2 linked regions of the Homo sapiens genome follow. The protein of the gene in region 1 interacts with the protein of each later gene in a biochemical or structural test. Each region holds a gene or a part of one and is shown on either strand. Other genes may lie near its edges. The genes, in order: SERINC1 and PAX8.

Region 1 (11,160 bases):
CACCGTTCCTGGCCTCTGTTCCATTTTTATAGCATCCTGTGGTTGTTTCATGGAAGCAAGCTTTCTCCCTTTTTAAAAAAATCTTTATTTTTATCTTTATGATATACCCTGTACTATATAGTTTATTAATATACTCTGTAAGTATATTAAAAATACCAAATTTTTTATGCTTTTATGTCTGCCTATAATTTCTTTTCAAGTTTCTCCTATCCACTCCTCCCACTTTCATTGATCTTAGTGTTTTCCGGAGTATTCAGTGGTCAGTAGCTATTTGTTCATATTTAGGAGTGGGACACTCAAGAGCTTGGTGTAGGACTTGTCAGCTGTGACTACCGTGAAGTGATCTGGCTCAACCAGTTTATTGTGGAAGCCTAATGCAGATATTTATCTAGGGCTATTGATAGATCCAGGGTACACTTCCAGTCTCCAACCTGGGGAATATACCTGCATTCTGGAAGGCAAGTGACGGAAAGAATGATGAGGTTCTTCACATTCAGTACATAAAATTTGACTTAATTTTATGTTTTTAGTATGGAACCCCTTCTGTCAACTCTACTTGGTGTTTCCCTGTCAAACCTCATGTTTTATTCTTTCAGGTGACTAGTGCAAGAAATGGAATGAAATCTGGGAGTCTTAACTGCTCTTTGGAAAGACATTCAACCAATCATCTATTTTTACTATACCTTTAGTGTCACTTACAGAGACTCCTGGTGCCACCAGTTCCTGAACTATTTGGGGATTCTGCCAAATGAATTGTGTTGCTCGTTAACTTTTTCCTTTGATAACTTAGAATTCAGCTTTCTCTGTTAAGGTTGTTACTACTTCGTAGTTTCTACTTCCTAGATTTGTTCTGGGAAGAACAAAACAAAAGAACTAGAACAAAAGATCTAGTTCTTTTTGACTTTTACATTTTATTCTTTCTTTTTTAAAGAAAAAAAACCCCAAACCTTTATTTTTTATTTTATTGGGATTTCTAGAGTGAACATAGGTAAATTAATATATTCAGTCTGCCATCTTTAACTAGAAGCACTTTGTACTATTATTTTTATGTTGCCATTATCTTATACCCTAGAAACATTGACTGGGGGCATTCTATGTTTTAATAAGCCCTCCAGGTAATTCTGGTAGTTGTTACAGTTTGAGAACCAGTGCTCTAAACTTAAGTGGATGCAAAGCTCTCTACCAGTCCTTGGCTTACCATTGCTTTGCTCTAATTTTTTATTTTAATGTCATCTCCTAATTGACCACATTTTGTCATCAGTAGATTTTTCAAAAAGGATTTATTGGTGCCGGAATCTCTAAGTTCTTTGGTTTTTGAAAGTGCCTGCTAAATTCTTGAGAGACATTTTGGACTGGTATAATATAGTATACGAATTTCCTTCAGAACTTTGTAGTTATTTCTCTTTCGTATTCTGTCTTATATCAGCCTGGTTTCCACACCGTCCCTCTGCACGTGCATAGGTGGTTTGTTTCCTCTGCCTGAGTAGCTGAAGAGTTTTTGTTTATCTTAGAAATTAAATAACCAGATAAGTCTGAGTTTAAATCTTTTATCACTTTTTTTCCCCTTCTCAAAAAGTAGTGTGCTCTTTTGATGCACAGATTATTTTTCCATCTAAGGAATTTTTCTTATATTAGATCTGTGAATATCCTTTAATTCATTTATTTAGAGGATTCTCTATTTTAAGGACTTTTTTTAGTTAAGGTATAATTTACATACAGTAGAATTTACTCTTTGTAATATACAGTTCCATGAGTTTTGACAAATGCATCTCTAGTCGTGTAACCGTTTTGGAACATCGATCATCCTAAAAAATTGCACTGTCCTGTCCTTGGCAACCCCTATTTTCTGTCTTTAGGATTTTGCCTTTCTAGAGTGTCATATTAATGGAATCCTACAATATATAGTCTTTGAGTCTGGCTTCTTTTACTTAGCACATAATGAGTTTCATTCTCCGTATGTTTTTATTGTTGAATATTGTTTTTGTTTGGATGTACCACAATTTATCCATTCACCATTTGAGGAGCCTTTCTAGGTTTTGATGATTACAAATAAAGTAGCTATAAGCATTCCCATCAAGGTTTTTTTGTGTAATTATAAGTTCTTATTTCACTTGAATAAATATCTGAGTGTGGATTTGCTTATTCATACAGTAAGTGCATGTTTGATTTAAAAATAAGAAACAGTCAAACTGGTTTCCAAAATGGTTGTACCATTTTTCATTCCCGCCACCAAAGTAAGAGAGTTCTAGTTGCTCTGCATTCTTGTCAGTAGTTGGTATCATCAGTTTATTTCATTTTAGCCGTTCTAATATGCATGCAGTAGTATCTCTGATTTTAATGTACATTTCCCTAATAATGATATTGAGCACTTTTTCTTTGCTTATTTGCTGTCTATATGCCTTTTATTAAAGTATCTGTTTAAATATTTTGCCCATTTTTAATTGAGTTGTTTGTTTTCTTATCACTGAGTTTTTAGAGTTCTTTTTATATTCTGGATGCCGATGATTTATCATGTACCTCACTTGCAAGTATTTTCAAGTTTATGGCTTGCTTTTTCATTCTCAGCAGTGTGTTTCAAAGAGCAAAAGTTCTTAATTTTGATGAAGCCCAATTCATTTGTTTTTCTTTTGTGAGTCCTGTTTTTTATATGGTATCTAGGAAATCTTAATTCTCATATATGGTTTGATTATGGCTTAAGGTTAACTTTCTAAAAAATGTATGAATATCCAATTATTTCAGCAACATCTGTTAAAAAGATTATCCTTTCCATAGTGAATTGCTTTGGTATCTTTGTCAAAAATCCTTTGATTATATTTGCATGAATCTATTTCTGAACTTTATTGTGTTCTACTTAGTGTGTCCACCCTTTTCCCTATATCACTCTGTTTTAATTACTGTCACTTTAATGCTAGTCTTGAAATCAGGTAGTGTGTCTTTTAACTTTGTTCTTTTTTCAGACTTGTTTGAGCTATTCTGGTGTTTTTTGCCTGTTCAGCTAGTTTATTTCTGTAAATCTGATGTTGGGATTGTGATTGGAATTGGGCTGAATCTATAGATAAGTTTGGAAAGACCTGATATCTTGAAAATAATTGTCTTCCAACTATGAACTCTGTATATTTTGCCATTCATTTAGGTCTTTGATTTCTTTCACCAATGTTTTGTAGTTTTCATTATTTGAGATCTTGTCTATGTTTTGTTAGATTTATAACTATTTTCTTTTTGTTTTCAGTTATTACTAATACGTAGAAACATGATTGTGTATATTGACTTTTTATCATGTGACCTTATTAAACCGATGAGTTAGTTCTAGTTGCATTTTTGTAGGTTCTTTGTGGGGTATTTTTATTGTTTTTATTTGTTTTGTTTTGTTGTCATCCAGACTCGAGTGCAGTGGCGCTATCATTGAACTCCTTGAACTCCTAGGCTCAAATGGTCCTCCTGCCTCAGCTTCCCAAATTGCTGGGATTACAGGTGTGAGCCATGGTGTATGGCCCTCTTTGGGATTTTCTATATAGACAGTTGTGTTATATGTGAAGAGGGCAGTTTCGTGTCTTCCATTCCAATTTTTATGTTTTATTTTCTTTCTTGCCTCATTATATTGGCTGGGACCTCCAGTGTGAAGTTGAATTCAAATGGTGAGAGAGGTATTTTGCCTTGTTTGATGTCTTACAGGGAAAGCATTCAGACTTTCGTCATTAATTATGGGTGAGAGCTATAGGTATTTGTAAATGCCATTTATCAAGTTAAGGATGTTATCTTCTATTCTTTGCTGACAGTTTATATCATGAATAGGTATTGAATTTTGTCAAATGGTTTTTCTGTATCTATTGAGATGACCTTGTTTTTTTTCTTTAGTCTGTTTATACAGTAGAGGTCATTGGTTGATTTTTAAAAGTGGAACCAGCCTTGCTTTTCCAGGCTAAACTCTACCTGGTGGCAATATATTATCCTTTTTATATACTTTCATATTGCTGTTTTTGACTTGCTAAAATATCATTAAGAATTTTTTTGTGTATGTTTATGAGGGATATCGGTCTATTATTTTCTTATGATGTCTTTGGATTTAGTCTCTGTAATTCTGGCCCATTTTTTTAAATAAGAAGAATATGTCTCTTTCATATTCCTTTGTATGCAAATCCAAATTTCTCTCTGGTATAATTTTCTTTCTTGGAGGATTTCCTTCAACATTTCTGGTAGTTTAATTCTGCTTGTTTGGATTATTTTGTCTTTTCTATTCCTGAAAATGTCTTTATTTTGCCTTAATTTTTGGAAGATATTTTCACTGAGTATAAAATTCTTTTTTTTTTTTATTATACTTTAAGTTTTAGGGTACATGTGCACATTGTGCAGGTTAGTTACATATGTATACATGTGCCATGCTGGTGCGCTGCACCCACTAACTCGTCATCTAGCATTAGGTATATCTCCCAATGCTATCCCTCCCCCCTCCCCCAACCCCACCACAGTCCCCAGAGTATGATATTCCCCTTCCTGTGTCCATGTGATCTCACTGTTCAATTCACACCTATCAGTGAGAATATGCGTACAAAATTCTATGTTTACATATTTTTTTCTTTCGGTACTGATTTTAGGCTTGAACCGTTTCTTACTAGAAGTGTGATTTATTTCTTTGTTCCTCAGTTTATAATGTACATTTTATTTTTCTGCCTACTTTTAAGATTTTTCTGATTATTACTTTTTTAAGTAATTTGATTATGATGTGACTTGGTGTGGTTTTCATGTTTATTTTGCTAGGGCTTTGTTGAGTTTCCTGGATCTGTGAGTTTATCGTTTTCATAAATTTGGAAAAATTTGGGCAATTACTTCCTCAGAAGCACCTTTGTGTCACTTCTCTCCAATTGAAGTTCATTTCAGGGACTCTAATTTCACTTATATTAGGCTATTTAAAGTTGTCTCACAATGTTCTGATCCTTTTCTTATTTTTATCTCTCTTTCATTTTGGATCATTTATTTTCTTATGTCTTCAGGTTCATTATTAATCTTTTCTTCTGTCTTGTCAATATTTAGGGGGCTTATTTTATCATCTGGAGAAGTATGATATGGGTCTTAATTTTAAATTATCTTCCATGTCTGTCCGTAACATTATCAAGTTTTCCTCTACTTCCTTGAGCATGTGATATATACTTAACAGTAATACTACAATGCCCTATTTATAAATGAACTCAGTTATCTATATCATTTCCAGGTTGATATTGACTGATTGATCCTCATTATAGGTTGTATTTTTCTGGTTTTTGCATGCCTGCTAATTTTTTGTTAGCTTTCCAGTGTAAATTTTTCCTTGATCAGCGCTGGATATACTTTTATTTTCAAAAAAATATTCTTGGGCTTTTATCTTTGACTTGGGTGATTTTACTTAGAGACAGTGTGATCTTTTTATTTGCCTTTAGGTTTCGTTAAGTGCAACTAGTGCAGCCTTTAGTTTGATGGCTGATTTTTCTCCAGTATTAATTGCCTTCTGATATCTTTACCCAATGCCTCATGGATTACAAAGTTTTTCACCTCTGGGTGGTAAAATTCTCAGACCCTCCCTGCAGTGAACATTCTCCCTAGGCAGAAATAAGGGCCACTTGGCTGGGCGCGGTGGGCCACACCTGTAATCCCAGCACTTTGGGAGGCCGAGGTAGGCGGATCACCTGAGGTCAGGAGACCAGCCTGGCCAACATGGTGAAACCCTGTCTACTAAAACTACAAAAAAATACAAAAATTAGCCGGGTGTGGTGGTGCACGCCTGCAATCCCAGCTACTCAGGAGGCTGAGGCAGGAAAATCCCTTGAACCCGGAGTGGGTGGGGGAAGGTTGCAGTGAGCTGAGATCGCACCACTGCACTCCAGCCTGGGTGACAGAAGGAGACTGTGTAAATCAATCAATTAATCAATAAAATAAGGGCCAGTCATAGGGCTCACATTGTCTCCTCTTAGAAATTGCTGGCTTTACATTGCCTGTTGTTCATTGTCTGAAAAACTTATTTTTTCCATTGTTTAAGTCAGGAGGATAAGTCTGGTCATGGTTTCTCCATCTTGACCTGAATTTATAGTAATTATCCCAAGCCTTTTTTCATCAGTAATTTTATGTTTACCTATGTCTGTTTTGTTTCTTGATAGTTACTAGTTAAGTCCGTTTTTTCCCTTCTCATTTCTTTAGCCCTTTGATTTCCACTTTCCATTGTGTTCTGTTCTTACTTCATTTTTGAGGTCTCCTTTTTTAACAAAAAATATTTTTTATTTTTCTGTAGCTCAAATGAAATACTGGTAGGGGATTTCCTTTTCTTACTGGATTATATTTATTTCAGACTGAATTCTTCATATGCCTTATATTTTCTTCATTCCTTTTTCTGAGGGGAGATGTTTATGTTTAACTTTTGCTAAAGTATATTTACATAGTTGCCATGACATGTATTTCCGTTTTGTGGACGTTTAATATAAAGCAGCTTTATTCTTACCTTATATTGGTTGGTGTAGTGGTCTGGCTTCTACAACATTCCCTTACTGTGATATCTAAGACTCTTTTCCCCTAGAGCTGTAATTCTAGGGCTGGAAGATCTGGTTCATCCACCTTCTAGAAGTCTGACATCTCAGCCCAGGTTATGATATTATGAGAATATTTACTCTGTGGCTTTCTTAGATACTGTTAAATACTCTGTACCAGTGTTCCTCTCTCCTAGACAGGAAGATATTCTGTTCCCTTGGGGGCATACTGCTAGTTTAGTGTGGTGGTTACTGGAGAAAAGCTAGCCCCAGTTGTATTATTATCCTTTTTGCCTCACTCTAGTTGTAGTTTTCATTATTATCACTATCGCCAGGTCAAAAGAAGGAAAATATATCAATTCACTTTTTTTTCCCTCCCTGGATGTATTTGAGAATCCTCGGAATTTTTTGTATTCATCAGTCTAGTATCTGGGGGCTAAAGGTCAGGGGCTGGAGGTGGGCTTAGCAGCTGTGCTACTCATGAATATTCCATTTCTTTTCCTCTTTAAACTTTGGTTACTGCTGATGATTTTTTCCCCTTTTTGTTTTAGCTGATTTGTCCGTTTTACTTGGCATAGAGTCCAAGGATTTTTTTTGTCTTTACTCCTTCTTAGAAGTTGCTAAGTTTTGTGGTATATAGATAATTTATATGAACCAAATACCGTATGTCCCTTGATGTAATTACTTTTAGTCTTTTTTCTTTTTTAACAGATAGAATGTCAATTTTCATTGTATCATTTTAAGATATAGTGATTTACTGATTCTTAATAATATTTTCAATAATATTCTTTTTCCCAGATACCATGTTTGTGTGGAAGTGCCCCGTGTTTGCTATGCCGATGCTGTCCTAGTGGAAACAACTCCACTGTAACTAGATTGATCTATGCACTTTTCTTGCTTGTTGGAGTATGTGTAGCTTGTGTAATGTTGATACCAGGAATGGAAGAACAACTGAATAAGGTTAGTCTCGTTTCTTATTTATTGATTAACTGAGGCTATAGGGTATATATGTATATGTATAAAATTGATTCGGGGATATTGTAAACAGAATAATATAGAATAAGACAGTATGTAATCCTAGTTGTAGTTCATAATCTTTTAGGAAAAAGATAATATACATTAGTTTGTTAAGTTCTATGATGGTGGTACAGGAAATGTACTGTGGTAATACACAGAAAGAAGTATAATTCTAACCAGGTGTCAGAATCTCAATGGGTCATGGAAAAAAGGATGTTCTAAGAATGATTAGAACTTGCATATACAGAGATTGAAAAATAGAAAGCATAATGAGTATAAAAGAGCTTTTCAAGCAAAGTATCTATACTTTAGGAAGATTAATCTTACAATTAATAAAGTATAAAAGTCAAGCAGTTAAATATGGAGGCTGTTGCAGTGGTATAATCAAGAAGAGAATAGCGGACCTGAAATAAGATTTTCTGGATGTAAAATTGACTGAGCCTAGCACTGAAATATTGGCAGTGATATGGAATCATAAATAACAACCAGGTTCTGGTCCTACAAAACCGGGAGGAAAGTATTGCTATTAACCTAGAAAGGAAAATTTTTAGAGAGAGTCAGGTTGTGGAAGGAGATTGGGAACACATAATAAATTTAGTTTCTAACATGTTGACTTGGTGGTATTGTATCGTGTACATGTATATATATATATATATATGTATGTCTTACTCAGTTCAGGCTGCTATAACAAGAATATCATAGGCTGGGTGGCTTAAGACAACAAAAATTTATTTCTCAGTTTTGGAGGCTGAAAGTCCGAGATCAGGGTGCCACCATGGTCAAGTTCTGATGAGGATCTTATTCCTGGTTTACACATGGCCATCTTACATTTTTGAAAGAAAGCAGCAGCTCTCTTCTGTCTGTTTTTATAAGGGCATTAATCCCATCCTGAGGGCTCTACCCTCATGATTTAATTACCACATAAAGGCCCTATCTCCCACTATCCTCCCATTGAGGGTTAGAGTTTCAGCATTTAATTTTGGGTAGACACAAACACGAAGTCCATAATAATATACAGCAGTAAGTAGAAAACATGAAGGAATTTAAAAGAGAAATCAGAGCTAGAGACTGCCTTGAGGATAGAAATTGAATGTTGAAACCATGGCAGCGTATGCTGAAGATCATTCAGAGTGAGCAGAGCTAGAACTCTGCCAAAATCTCTTACTTAAGGGAGTTAGTGGAGAAAGGAAAACCTGATTCTGATCCTAGAAAACTGGGAGGGAAGGGATAACAGAAAAGAACAAAGAAAATGTATAGGTTCTAGGAAGAAAGTTTTAAGAATGACAGGGATAGTGTCTATATAAAAATGAGATTAAGGAATGTGATTAAGCAGTAGCCTTTGGGTTTGGAAACCAGTACATGACTAGTATCCTGGAAAAGCAGTTTTTTTAGAGTGCTGGGACTGGAAAGAGTGGGAGGAAATAATTTATTCTTATATATATGAATAATAGATGTATTAATAGTTCTGAACAGTAGTCTCAGAAATAGCACTTACACTACTAAAACAAGTCTATCGTGCTATTCAAGTAGAATGCAAGTTTTTAAAATGTAGGATAAATCTATAACTCAAAATAAGCAACCAGCATAGAGTTGGTATTGTAGTTTATGATTTGCGCAGATGGGGATTTAACTCTTTTTTCCCCACTGTATGTGATTAAAATGTATCAGACTCATCTTGAGTACATATTCATCATAAATTGTAAAGCAAATGCCAGTTTTCTAAACCTTTACTTAAACTATTTGATTACATGTAATTTTTATTTTTACTTAATGAAAAAAAATGATGGATCATAAACTCTTTTGTTTTTCTAGATTCCTGGATTTTGTGAGAATGAGAAAGGTGTTGTCCCTTGTAACATTTTGGTTGGCTATAAAGCTGTATATCGTTTGTGCTTTGGTTTGGCTATGTTCTATCTTCTTCTCTCTTTACTAATGATCAAAGTGAAGAGTAGCAGTGATCCTAGAGCTGCAGTGCACAATGGGTAAGTTTTTAAATAAGCTTCAATATAAAAGCTTGGGTAGCCTCTTCTTGATAATTGCCAGTTTATCCAAGGAAACTTTAAGGTAAAATAAACTTATACAATTTGCAGAATTACTTTATTCATGAATGACAGGATAAGAAAATCTTGTTTTTACTGGAGAATGTCAGACTTTGGATATTAAATAATAGCTGTGATAACCTCTGATCCACAGTGTTTTATATTTTCATACTAAAAAAGAGGCTCTATTATATTTGTGACTACTAAGGGAATAGCTATTTCTCCTTCTACTGTTAACTTTAGGTGGACCAGTCCACTTACATAGAACTCTCAGTTCCCTAGACCCAGAGAGCAGATTTTTCTAGGTTGGTTGTATTGGACAACCCAGAAAGAAACTTCAGGGTTTCTTTTATCAATCTTCCTTCATATAGAGCACTACTTCTGGTACCCTTATTTGACTGTTTTAATATCTGCTGTTGCTTATCTAGTTATATGTGCTACCAAAGACAAAAAGTATAAACAAGTAGAATATAAATATTAATGAGAAAATATGTGACGGGTTGCTTTTCCTTTATTTTGTTCCTTTGGTCATTGATTATTTTATTAAATTATTAGAGTTTTAGATGGAGGCATTTATCATGTGTTTATAAAAACTATTCATTTATACAGTTCACCTTATACTTTGATACATTATCCCACTTATGTGAAATAAGCCTGTGAAATGGAACTAACATTCTCATTTTTCCATAATGAATTAGTGAGAAATACATCTTTCTCAAAATGGTCTTAAAAGCAGTTTATGTAATTGTTGTTTTTTCTGATAATCAAGTGTATTAGGGTTCTCTAGAGGGACAGAACTAATAGGATAGATAGATATATATAAAGGGGAGTTTATTAAGTATTATCTCACATGATCTCAAGGTCCCACAATAGGCCATCTGCAAGCTGAGGAGCAAGGAGAGCCAGTCCTAGTCCCAAAACTGAAGAACTTGGAGCCTGATGTTCAAGGGCAGGGAGCATCCAGCACAGGAGAAAGATGTAGGCTGGGATGCTAGGCCAGTCTAGTCTTTTCACTTTTTTTTTTTGCCTGCTTTATATTCTAGCCCTGCTGGCAGCTGATTAGATGGTGCCCACCCAGATTAAGGGTGTGTCTGCCTTTCCCAGCCCACTGACTGAAATGTTAATCTTCTTTGGCAACACCCTCACAGACACACCCAGCATCAGTACTTTGCACCCTTCAATCCAATCAAGTTGACACTCAGTATTAACCATTACAAGTCAGTACTTTGCATCCTTGAATTCAATTGACACTCAGTATAACTATCAGAAGTCTACCCATTGTCAACTTGAACCCGTATACATCTCCTGAGATCATACATAATCTGCAAATAAAGACAATAATAAGGTCATACAACTAACCTTACAACTGAAAACGCACCAGTCCCCAACCAAAATACTAATTACATAAAGTTAACAATACTTAAATGCTGATGTGAAGTCAGTAAATCTTATGTCACATGATAAAGGAGAATGGAAATAAAATGAAGATATTTTCTTAGTACAAGTATATGCATGCATGAACATGTTTTTGACAAAACAAGGAGGAAGTACTCACAACAATTACAGCCCTCGTTTCTGCAGCTGGACATGTGGTCATAGCTGGTATTGATGACTGC
Region 2 (11,160 bases), on another chromosome or scaffold:
GGAAATAAGTGACCCAGAGAAAAACGCTATGAAGTAGTGAAGGAGTTGCAGGAGGCGGCAGCGAGGGTCCTTGGGAGTCACTCAGAGGCATGTGGAAGATTCACGCGGGTTAAAGCTGAGCTGATTATGGAATGAAAACTCACTGTGTCCTCTCTCCTCTCTCCTGGTCTGCAGCATTACTTAGGAATAATGTGGCCTCAACTTCCTTCTCTTTCTTTATTATTTTTTTCTTTTTTGAGATGGAGTTTCGCTCTTGTTGCCCAGGCTGGAGTGCAATGGCACGATCTCGGCTCACCGCAACCTCCGCCTCCTGGGTTTAAGCAATTCTCCTGCCTCAGCCTCCCGAGTAGCTGGGATTACAGGCATGTGCCACCACGCCTGGCTAATTTTGTATTTTTAGTAGAGATGGGGTTTCTCCATGTTGGTCAGGCTGGTCTCGAACTCCCGACCTCAGGTGATCCACCCACCTTGGCCTCCCAAAGTGCTGGGATTACAGGTGTGAGCCATTGGGCCCAGGTTCCTTCTCTTTCTTTCAAATTCACCTCTTCTTGGGAAGGTCTGCAGCCTCCTGCGCTCCTGGAACCATTCCCTTCCTAACCTTCCCCACCGCCCCCCGTCATGTCCTCCCAGCTCTCTCACCATGGCTCAGCCACGTGTTAGGTATTGAGATCCAGTCTTGACCAGAGGCCTCAGGTGGACAGTCTGTAAGGAGCTCCAGGCCAACACCCTGAGCTCAGCATGGACACCAGCCATCCCCTCCCTTGTGCCTGAGCTGCTTTCTGACTTGCTTCCTACTCTTGGCCATTTGCCTGGACCCCAGATCCTCCAAGGCTAGCACTCCTCACTCTTTTCAGAGCCTCTGCCTCTGTGCTGAATTGTCAACCCTTGGGCTAGGGGGCCCTGTGACCAGCCAGCAACCTTCAAAGTGCTCACACCTGCACTTCAGCATCATCTGGGCCTGGATTGGGGGCCACCAGCCTGAAAGATATGCCGGTGCTGCATATTTGGCTGCCTGCTTCCTACATGACTACCTGGTGTCTGCTGCCAGCTGTTTTGTCCCATGGGTTGGGTGACCTCTCAGTCCTGCAGTTGGCCTGGAGAGTGGGCATGTCCACTAAATTAACAGCTGACAGTAGTTGGAGGCGTCACCTCTGATTGACTGCATGTTGACAGGGGATGCTAACAGGATGACAGGGAGGGGACAAAGTGTAGGGGCTTTGGGAGTAGGGAGTTTGCCCTGGGCTGTTCCAGTTGCACTTTACACTACAGCCTATGTCTGCACTCTGATACATCTATCCACTTCCAGCTGCCCTACATCCTTCCCTCTCCTTCAGCTGGTCTTGCCAAGCTTCTCCGCGGCTTCCACAGCACCTGCTCCCCATCATCATGGGCACCACCACACCCTCACCCCTTGCCTGCCCCATGACCGCCGCCAGCTCTAGCCTGCCATTCTCAGAAGACATGCAGGCTTGCGTAACTCCCTGTAACTGACATGAACCTCTTCTCCTCACCCCCTCCCCTCCCCTCCCCTCCCCTCCCTTCCCTTCCCCTCCCTTCCTCTCCACTATCCTCTCATTCCCCTCCCTACCCCGCATCCCATTTTCTCTGGCTGACATAATTTTACTCAGCTCACAGGTTTTGCTCTTTTCATCACTTTGGTCAAAACAAATGACCCATCTCTGCTGCCTTCACCCTCTTGAATTCTTGAACTCCAAGTCAACTCCTCGCTTTAGACCCTTAAACACCATCTCTCTGCCCACACACTGGATGTCCCTCTCTTCTAAGGAAACTTCTCACATTAGGTGCTGGGATGTACGGAGGAAAAAAAAAAAAAAACCCGGGTGCCAGCCAGAAAGAAAATGTAGAGCCAGTTATAAAAAAGGGTCCATGGGCTGGGTGCAGTGGCTCACACCTGTAACCCCAGCACTTTGGGAGGCCAAGGTGGGCGGACCAAGGTCAGGAGATTGAGACCATTCTGGCTAACATGGTGAAACCCCATCTCTACTGAAAATACAAAAATTAGCCGGGTGTAGTGGCGCCCATTTGTAGTTCTAGCTACTCGGGAGGCTGAGGCAGGAGAATCACTTGAACCCAGGAGGTGGAGGTTGCAGTGAGCTGAGATCGCGCCACTGCACTCCAACCTGGGCAACAGAGTGAGATTCCATCTCAAAAAACAAAAAAACAAAAAAAAAAGGGTCCAGGGACTTTTATCACATGACCCTGTGGTTACTCTGGGCTTGTAGAGGTCTTAATCCTCTGGTGCAGTGGTTTCGAAGTCCAAGGGCTTTCTAGGGGCAGGGACCCCTTCTAAAAGAGCAGTTCTTCAGGGGTCTGGTGAGCATACATGTCTTCTGTAAAAGGCTTCATTTCAAGAGAGCATTGAGAGGCCCAAATTTGAAACCACTGGTCCAGATGGACTGTCTGACTCTGGGCTGCCTCTGTGACAGGTCTCACACACCCCACCCACGCACTGGTCTCTGCTCCAGCATTTCAAGGTCGTCGGGGTAGGAGGGTGTGGGAGGTGAAGAGGCATTTACTTCTGTCACTAAATACCCACACTCCTTGGAGACAGTGCCGCTATTAAAGAGATTCCTCCAATGCTGAACTGAGAGCTAGCTGGCTTCCTTCCCTGGTCCTGGGCCCCCACTGGGCCCACATCTAAAATAGTCCTATCCCTGTGGAAGCCCTTGAGGTATCTGAAGACCATATGGGTCTCTGCTTCCCACTTTCACTGCATCTCAGGCCCTCTCCAACCCAAGCCAAGCGCTTGACTCTCAGCCATTCCTCAGGCCCTGGCTGGATGAGCGAAGGTCCTTCTGCCAGGAGGAGCCAGCTCCCCTTGAGGTCTGACTCATGCAGTGCAGGCCCAGGCCTCAACCAGCTACAGATGGTGCTCCTGCCCAGAGACCTTGGCAGGGACCTTCTCCTCCCTGGGCCAGGTTCCTCATCAGCATAAGAGGTTTGATCTAGAGGCTCCCTCAGGTGCTTCCAGATTTACTTATTTTTATTTATTTGTTTTTTTCTTTTTTGAGATGGAGTCTTGCTCTGTCACCCAGGCTGGAGTGCCATGGCGCCACCTCAGCTCACTGCAACCTATGCCTCCTGGGTTCAAGCGATTCTCCTGCCTCGGCCTCCCCAGTAGCTGGGATTACAGGTGTCTGCCACCACACCCCCTAATTTTTTGAATTTTAGTAGAGATGGGGTTTCATCATCTTGGCCAGGCTGGTCTTGAACTCTTGACCTTGTGATCCACCTGCCTCGGCCTCCCAAACTGCTGGAATTACAGGGGTGAGCCACCTCGCCCGGTCGGTGCTTCCAGCTTTAAATATTTTGAGGCAGTTGAGGTTCCTGATGGGAGGTCCCCCACTCCTCTCAAGTTGTTGAATCACTGAATTTATCATGTTTAACAGATGTCTGACTGTCCTCCCGGTGATGCTGTTAAGCTAGGAATGAAGATAGCTGCATCATGGAAACACAACTGGGACTGACCCTTGGCCTTTTTAGAAATTTGATCCAGAAATGGGCTCCAAAAGCCAATTCCTTTTTCCCTCCAAAATGTTCATTTTTCCTTCTATCTATTTATGCATTTACCAAGGCCAAGTTGCTACGTTACAGCACCCGGCTCCCGGCCTTAGGGTTCCTGCTTTTCCATGGGGTCTTGGGGTGGTGCATCCCCGGCACCCCTACAGCATCCGCCCCTTCCGAGCATGTCTTCCCCGTCACAGAGAACTTCATGTTGGCGCCTCCAAAAGTTGCCGGAGGAATTAGGGAACAGGGTGGGGGTGGATGAGACTGAGGCCAGAGAGGGGGCTGGCGGTCTGCCCTGAGGACCCCCGTCCCACCCGCCGCCATAGCTGCATGGCCCCGGGACCTCCCTGTCGTACCTGAGAGGAGGGCCTGGCCCGTGAACTGCCCGTACACGGAGGCAGCATGGGGAAAGGCATTGAAGGGCGGGACCCCGGAGCCGACTTGCTGCAGATCCAAAAAGGCGGAGCTAGATAAAGAGGAAGGGGTGGAGCTAGAACTGGACACCTCGGGGGTTTCCTGCTTTATGGCGAAGGGTGAGTGAGGATCTGCCGGAGGGAGGGAGACAACAAGGAGAGAGGGGTGTGAGATGGCGGGGAGGGAACACGCACAAGCCAAGCCGTGGGATGTGGAGGGTGCGGGCGGGGCGCGGGGCAGGCTCAGCTGCCCTCAGAGTCTGGGCTGGGGAGAGCCGGGGCCCACGAGGCGTGGCAAGGCGGGGAGAGAGAAGCTAGACCTCCCTGCTGCGCTTCTGCAGCGAAAATGGAGAGACCCGGAAGGCGTGTGTGCGCCCGCCTCTCCCACAGGAGGGAGCGCGGAGACCCGGGAGCGGCCTAGGACCGGAGGCGCGACCCCTCGGCCCACCTTGAGGCCCGGCCTAGGACCGGAGGCGCGACCCCTGGGCCCACCTTGAGGCCCGGCCTAGGACTGGAGGCGCGACCCCTCGGCCCACCTTGCGGGAGCCGCCTAGGACCGGAGGCGCGACCCCTCGGCCCAGCTTGAGGCCCGGCCTAGGACCGGAGGCGCGACCCCTCGGCCCACCTTGCGGGAGCCGCCTAGGACCGGAGGCGCGACCCCTCGGCCCACCTTGAGGCCCGGCCTAGGACCGGAGGCGCGACCCCTGGGCCCACCTTGAGGCCCGGCCTAGGACTGGAGGCGCGACCCCTCGGCCCACCTTACGGGAGCCGCCTAGGGCCGGAGGCGCGACCCCTCGGCCCAGCTTGAGGCCCGGCCTAGGACCGGAGGCGCGACCCCTCGGCCCACCTTGAGGCCCGGCCTAGGACTGGAGGCGCGACCCCTCGGCCCACCTTGAGGCCCGGCCTAGGACCGGAGGCGCGACCCCTGGGCCCACCTTGAGGCCCGGCCTAGGACTGGAGGCGCGACCCCTCGGCCCACCTTGAGGCCCGGCCTAGGACCGGAGGCGCGACCCCTGGGCCCACCTGGCGGCCCGGCCGGCACAGCCCGCCTCTCCTCTCCAGGCCAGGGCCCCACACCTTCCGCCTGACAGCCAGCCAAGCTCTTCAGTCCCCCGCCCTCCACCTGCCAGGGAGGCTCCGGGCGTTGTACCTGCCACCACGGGGTAGGTCTGGTGAGTCGAGAGGTTGCGCCCCAGTGGCGTGTTGGAAGGGGTCAGGGTGGCCTTCCCGTCGTCCAGGGTGCTGTTGAGCAAGGGCAGCGGGTAGAGGCCCTGGGGAGCAAAGAGAAGTCAGCGCACAGAGACGATCCAACAAGCCGACCTTCCTGCAGACCCTGAGCCTGTGTCTTAGGACTTGGCAGCCCTCATCTCCCCAGGAGAGGTCCTCATCGCCCCCTTCTTCCTTTACGTTCTCAACTCCACTCGGCACGTTTCGTTCATGCTCATTGTCCTCCCGCATCCCTGGAATTCAAGGCCAGCTGGTAGCATGGGTGCCCAGACGTGGGATAGAGAGTCTCAGCCAGAGGACCACACCCTGGTTGGATGGCTGGTCGGCTTCCTGGTTTCACCACACTGTTGGGACCCACAGAATGCAGGACGGTGCCAAGGACTGGAGCAGTCTCCAACCGGACTGTTCAGGGTCCTTGCATCTGTTAATTTATTCTTCCCCAGATAGGAAACCCAGGCACAAAGGTTTAAGAAACTTGTCCCACTTCCAGATGGGCCAAAGATAGGATTCAGATTCGAGGGATCAGAATGTGTCTGCTCTCAACCACTGCCCTAAACTGGGTGACATAAGGACCACTTCTTACATTTGCAAAGAGCTTATATCAGAGCTTTGCCTCTGTTGTCCTAGTAGAGTCCCCCAGCAGCCCAGTGACATGGGTGAGTAATATTATGTCTGTGTTTTATATGTGGAGCCTGGAACTCAGGTAAATGGCCCAATTTTGTATAGTGAAACAGACTAAACCCGGGATTTTTCGGCTGTGGACCCAGGTGCTTTACCCACCACGTGGATTTCTTCTTTTCTCTCTCCACATCCAAACAAATAGAAGTGTGCAAGTTCGGCTTGAAAATGGTATTGAGAGTTGTTTTTGTTGGAAACACTCTTTGTCAAGTACCTGGGGGTCTTCATCAGTAAGACCTCATTTTAGATGCCTCCTGGCCTCCCCTTCCCAGGAGCACAGCTATGACCTTAGGTACTCCTTCCGAAAAGAACTTGTTTAACTAAAGGTAAGTGTACCTCATCCTCACCATGGCCTCCTTCCACTGGGGAAGCAGATAGCGCAGAAAAAAGAACACACCCATTCCCCACATACCTTCACACTCGTCACATACCTGCTACGTGAGATGTGCAAAGCTGAATTCAGGGAATGCTCAGTAGTTACATAACAGTGCCACTAAAGGCAATTGTTTTCAGTGATTTCCATCGAGCTGGGTTCTGCAAAGATCCACAGCACTTTCCGGTTGCATGCTGGGCACTTTTGGAAGCTGCAGTCAATTCTGGAGGCCACCAGGGCACCATTAGCACATAGCAGCAATTATTGACTAAATGGTGCTCTGGTTCCATGCCTTCCAAGGGGGCCCACTTAGAGGCAGGGTGGAGTTGCTTAGGGCCTTTTTTTTTTTTTTTTTTTGTAGACGGAGTTTTGCTCTTGTTGCCCAAGCTGGAGTGCAATGGTGCGATCTTCGCTTACTGCAACCTCTGCTTCCTGGGTTCAAGTGATTCCCCTGCCTCAGCCTCCCGAGTAGCAGGGATTACAGGTGCGTGCTACCATGCCAGGCTAATTTTTTGTATCTTTAGTAGAGACAGGAGTTTCACCATGTTGGCCAGGCTAGTCTTAAACTCCTGACCTCATGATCTGCCTGGCTTGACCTCCCAAAGTGTTGGGATTACAGGCATGAGCCGTTGCACCTGGCCAGGGTGTGTCTTATTGAAATTGAACAAAATACCTAATTTCTAGAGCGTATAAGAGAAGTTTAAAATGCTTTATGGATGTGTTGTTTTGACAGCAAAATATCTACTCAGAATCCTATAGCTATTTCAAAATCCAAGTAACTTAGAAAAAAAGGAAAAAGAAAACCTATATAGTCAAATCTTTTGGTGATTTTGTATTCAATGACTGAAACTTCCCAGTGATTATTGGGCTTTTTAGCTGGAATTGAACTTGAATCGGGGCAGAGCAGCACAATGCTTCAGAACTTCAGCGACTCTGAGCCCTGGTTCTGCAATGACCTGCCAAGTAGCTTTAGTCTACTTGACTGCTCTGAACCTTAATTTTCTCACCTGTATGGGAATCATAGACTCTACTTTATGAGGCTGACGTAAGCATTACATGAAATTTTGTATACTTATACATAATGTGCTTAGCACCGAATACTTGGTGACAGCAGATGCCCAATGAGAGTTATCACAGATATTATTTCAGAATCGTGAAGAGTCAGAAGCCACCAAATTCTTGATTTCTGTCAATAAACTGATATTCATATTCTGTTGATTTTTTTTGATGCATTTGTAAAATAGGGAAACAAGAGCTGTATGACTTCTAGCTATGTCTGGTCATGAAATAGCAACCAGGAATAAGGCCACATGATGTTTCTGATGAACACTTCCCCCTGCCCTTTTTTTTTTTTTTTCAGATGGAGCCTCGCTCTGTCACCCAGGCTGGAGTGCAGTGGCACAATCTCGGGTCACTGCAACCTCCGCCCCCCAGCTTCAAGCGATTCTCCTGTCTCAGCCTCCCGAGTAGCTAGGATTACAGGTGCACGCCACCAGGCCTGGCTAATTTTTATATTTTTAGTAGAGATGGGATTTTGCCTTGTTGGCCAGGCTGGTCTCAAACTCCTGACCTCAGGTGACCCATCCACCTTGGCCTCCCAAAGTGCTGGGACTACAGGTGTGAGCCACCATGCCTGGTCCCCCACTTGTTGATTTTGCAGAAAAGATAGCTGTGTTACAACCTGTCCTAAGGTCAGGTATGAATACTTGTGCTTCTTTCTTGGCTCCCCAAGCCAGAGGGCATTCCTATGCCCAGGTGAGAGAGCACGGAGTGTTACTTTGGCAGCACAGTCAGTTACCAGAGGTAGGAAAAGCAAAGGCCAGGCAGGACATGAGGGGCCCTTGCACTGGCTGGTTCTCCCTGCCTTCACCACCCTCCAGGTGAATGACTGGGTGAATAATGATTGACTGAGGAGGTAATGAATAATTTATGGACACTGCTGGACCTCAGTCTCCTCATCTGAAAGATGAGTGGTTGGAGAAGTTTAATGGTTTTCAAATGCTTTTTTTTTCAGTCTTCAAATAAGTGTTTACGTAGAAGCACCATATCTGAAACAGGTGACAGTGGACCAGTCTGAATGAAATGAGGGTTGGCAGGCCTGAGCTCCAAAACCTTCTGATTGCCCAAGCCCTCCTTGTCTTGCTTGGATTATCTCCACACAAATGGAGAAACTGGACAAGGTGGTCATGGAGGTCCCTGAAAGCTCAAAGACTTTCTCATTCCAGGATTCCCCATGTTCATATGCCAGCATGGCATGGGGGTGCTCTGTAGTCAAGCAGGGTCCTTTGGGGGGCTTAGGGATGGAGCCAGGAAATGGCTCTGGGACTCAGCGGGTGTCCAGAGTCTCATCAGCAGGGTTTCTTTACTTTCACTGAGTGGCTGGTGCCTGCACACTGAGTTTTGCAGGCTTACTCTCACAGAGTGAGCTTCCTGCAGGCCCCCCACTGCAACCCCTTTCCTTCCTGGAGCTGTGTGCTGACTGGTGCGTGAGCACCCCAGGCCCTCTCCCCATGCTGCTGATGGTCAGCTTTCTCTGCACGCTCGTGGTTGCCACAGTCAACGCTGATAAAATTGCTGATGCAGATTGCCTGCCCAGCTGCGAGTGCTGGCACGGGACCAGCAGCCCAGACGGTCACTGGAAGTGGTTGGGCTGATTATTGGCATCATCTCCATTGTCCTACTCGGTTCTTAAAGGCATATGGACTTGCCTCACTCCTACAGCAAATGACGGCATGGGCAAAGAGGGGCAACAGACCCACCCTGAAGACACTCCTCATCTGGTTGACTTGGCAGGGTTAAGGGAAAAAGATGTGATGACTAGGAGCTGAGAGCTTAGTGGTTCTGCCAGAGCTGCAGAGTCTTTGTTGGCCTCAGGGTGGGACCTCTCACATCTCTGTCAGCTTTTCACGGACACCAACCTGTTATGATTCATTTCACCTGTCCTGAGCACTAGCAAGAAAAATTCGCTGTAGCTTGTGATGTATTATTCTGGATTTCTCAACTCATTCATTTGTTCATTCATTCACTATACCATTACTGTCTATTATAAGGGGGGCACAATGGTAGGTGCTGGGAATAAAAACGATGTTTAACGTTTCATGAGGCTTCCCTGTCCTTAAGGAGTCCGCGTGTCTTTGTACCTGTCTGTCTGCTAGATTATTAAGTGACACTGTGAGAAGCTACTGAGAGCAGCATGTGGGACATGCAGAAGGGCAAGAGGCAGGAGAGATGATTCATGTCGGAGGGGCAGGGGAGGACTGACGGAGAGGGTGATGTTTGGCTGAGTCATGAAGGCTAGTGGTATTTTTCCATGCAGAGAAGTGGGAGGAAAGGCATTCTGTGTGGAGGGCACACAGTGTGCAAGGGCAGAGAGGTGTGAGCGAGGGTGGTGAGCTCGGGGCCATGAGTAATGCAAGAGCATGGGGTGTGCAGGATGAGTGGCCAAAGGTGGGGCTAGGAAATAGTGGCTGAGGTCATTATGTGAAGGCTTTGTGCTACTGCTTCAGAGTTGTGGAACGTGATGTTGCAATCTGGGAAAGACGCTGATGGCAAGGGATAGCATCATCAGGTTGTGCTGCCATCCCTGAAAGGCCCAGGCTCAAAGGTTTTGGGTGAAGGAAGCCAGGAGGGTTAGAAAGGGAGGAAGATGCCAGGGCATCTGGTAAAATAAAGCATGTGTCAGGCTTGGAGTTGCATAAGGCAGGTGCCCTGAGCCCATTGATGCAACTTCCAGCTGCTTTGATGGAGCACAGGCTCATTTGGAGAATAGACCTTCTCTGGCCCTTGCCCACCCTGTTCACCTCCCAGGGCCCAGCTTCTCACCTGCTCGCCTTTGGTGTGGCTGGGGGAGGCATAGGCCTCTGGGTAGTGCTGCCGCTCAAATGGGCACTCGAGCGGCTCGAGGTGGTGCTGGCTGAAGGCATCCGTGCGAAGGTGCTTTCGGGGTCCGCTGCTGCTGCTCTGTGAGTCAATGCTTAGTCGGCAGCTATCCTGATCACCTGGTACCCCCCGGGAAGGAAGAAAGCTTTTAGGGGACCTATCTATTCATGCTCTAGGCCAAAGTAGAGGACTGACTCCAAGCTGACTCACTGTGGAGGGAGAAAAAGGGCCAGCCACGTGGGCCCAGGAGCCTTGGCCAACTGAGGGACAGGACATGTGACAGTCACATGCAGAGCCCCTACAAAGTCCCATATCATAAGTGGAAGGGTTTCTGTCCCCATCAAAGCCTGAGCAAACTGCTCTCGTGCACCGCCCGCTGCCCTCCTGTCCCAGCACTCACTGTCATCCATTTTCCTCTTGTCGCTGCCAGGCTGAGCGATGCCCAGGAGCCCATTGATGGAGTAGGTGGAGCCCAGGGAATCCGACTGGGGTGACTCCGGGGGAGTTACAGCTGAGCTGGGGACTGCAGTGGGGGAGAGGGAGAGGGTCAGGGGTGGGAGTGACACCCCTCACAGCCCTGGGTGACTCTGGGGTAGTTACAGTTGAGCTGGGGACTGCAGGGGCTGGGGGAGAGGGAGAGGAGCAAGGGGTGGGACACCCCTTACAGCCCTGGGGTGACTCTGGGGGGACTGCGGTGGTGGGAAGAGGGAGAGGGTCAGGGAGTGAGAGTGACACCCCTCACAGTCCCTGCTGACACTGTGCAGGAGGCAGCAAGCCGAACCATGGACTGAGCCCTGGAGGGGCTCAGGTCCTTCCTCCAGGGGGCCTCCTGGTGGGAGGGATTCTTGGAGTTAGAGCTGTCTCAAGTGTTTGCACCTCTCCATAGTTCAGTGAATCTGCCCTGGGAACAGGCCAGACTTCGTCGCAGTGGCACAACTCAGTCTACACATGGGTTTGTGAATGGTACTGTGCACAGCTATGTCTGTGTGGGTGTGTCTGTGTGTGCCTCTGTGTATATGTGGGTATGCTGAAGGGGAGGTGTACACGAGCATGTGTGTGTAT

What was found.
Region 2: the proteins of SERINC1 (region 1) and PAX8 form a complex in vitro, tested with the Homo sapiens proteins (one study listed by BioGRID).

What each region holds. Positions count from the first base shown.
Region 1 is NC_000006.12:122,454,808-122,465,967, reverse strand, and holds part of SERINC1 (serine incorporator 1), read left to right. Parts: intron 1-7,286; coding exon 7,287-7,448; intron 7,449-9,317; coding exon 9,318-9,487; intron 9,488-11,160.
Region 2 is NC_000002.12:113,231,510-113,242,669, forward strand, and holds part of PAX8 (paired box protein Pax-8), read right to left. Parts: intron 10,622-11,160; coding exon 10,499-10,621; intron 10,218-10,498; coding exon 10,042-10,217; intron 9,334-10,041; exon of another isoform or gene 7,580-9,333; intron 6,704-7,579; exon of another isoform or gene 6,581-6,703; intron 5,213-6,580; coding exon 5,092-5,212; exon of another isoform or gene 4,760-5,091; intron 4,074-4,759; coding exon 3,885-4,073; intron 1-3,884. UniProt on the Homo sapiens protein: Transcription factor for the thyroid-specific expression of the genes exclusively expressed in the thyroid cell type, maintaining the functional differentiation of such cells.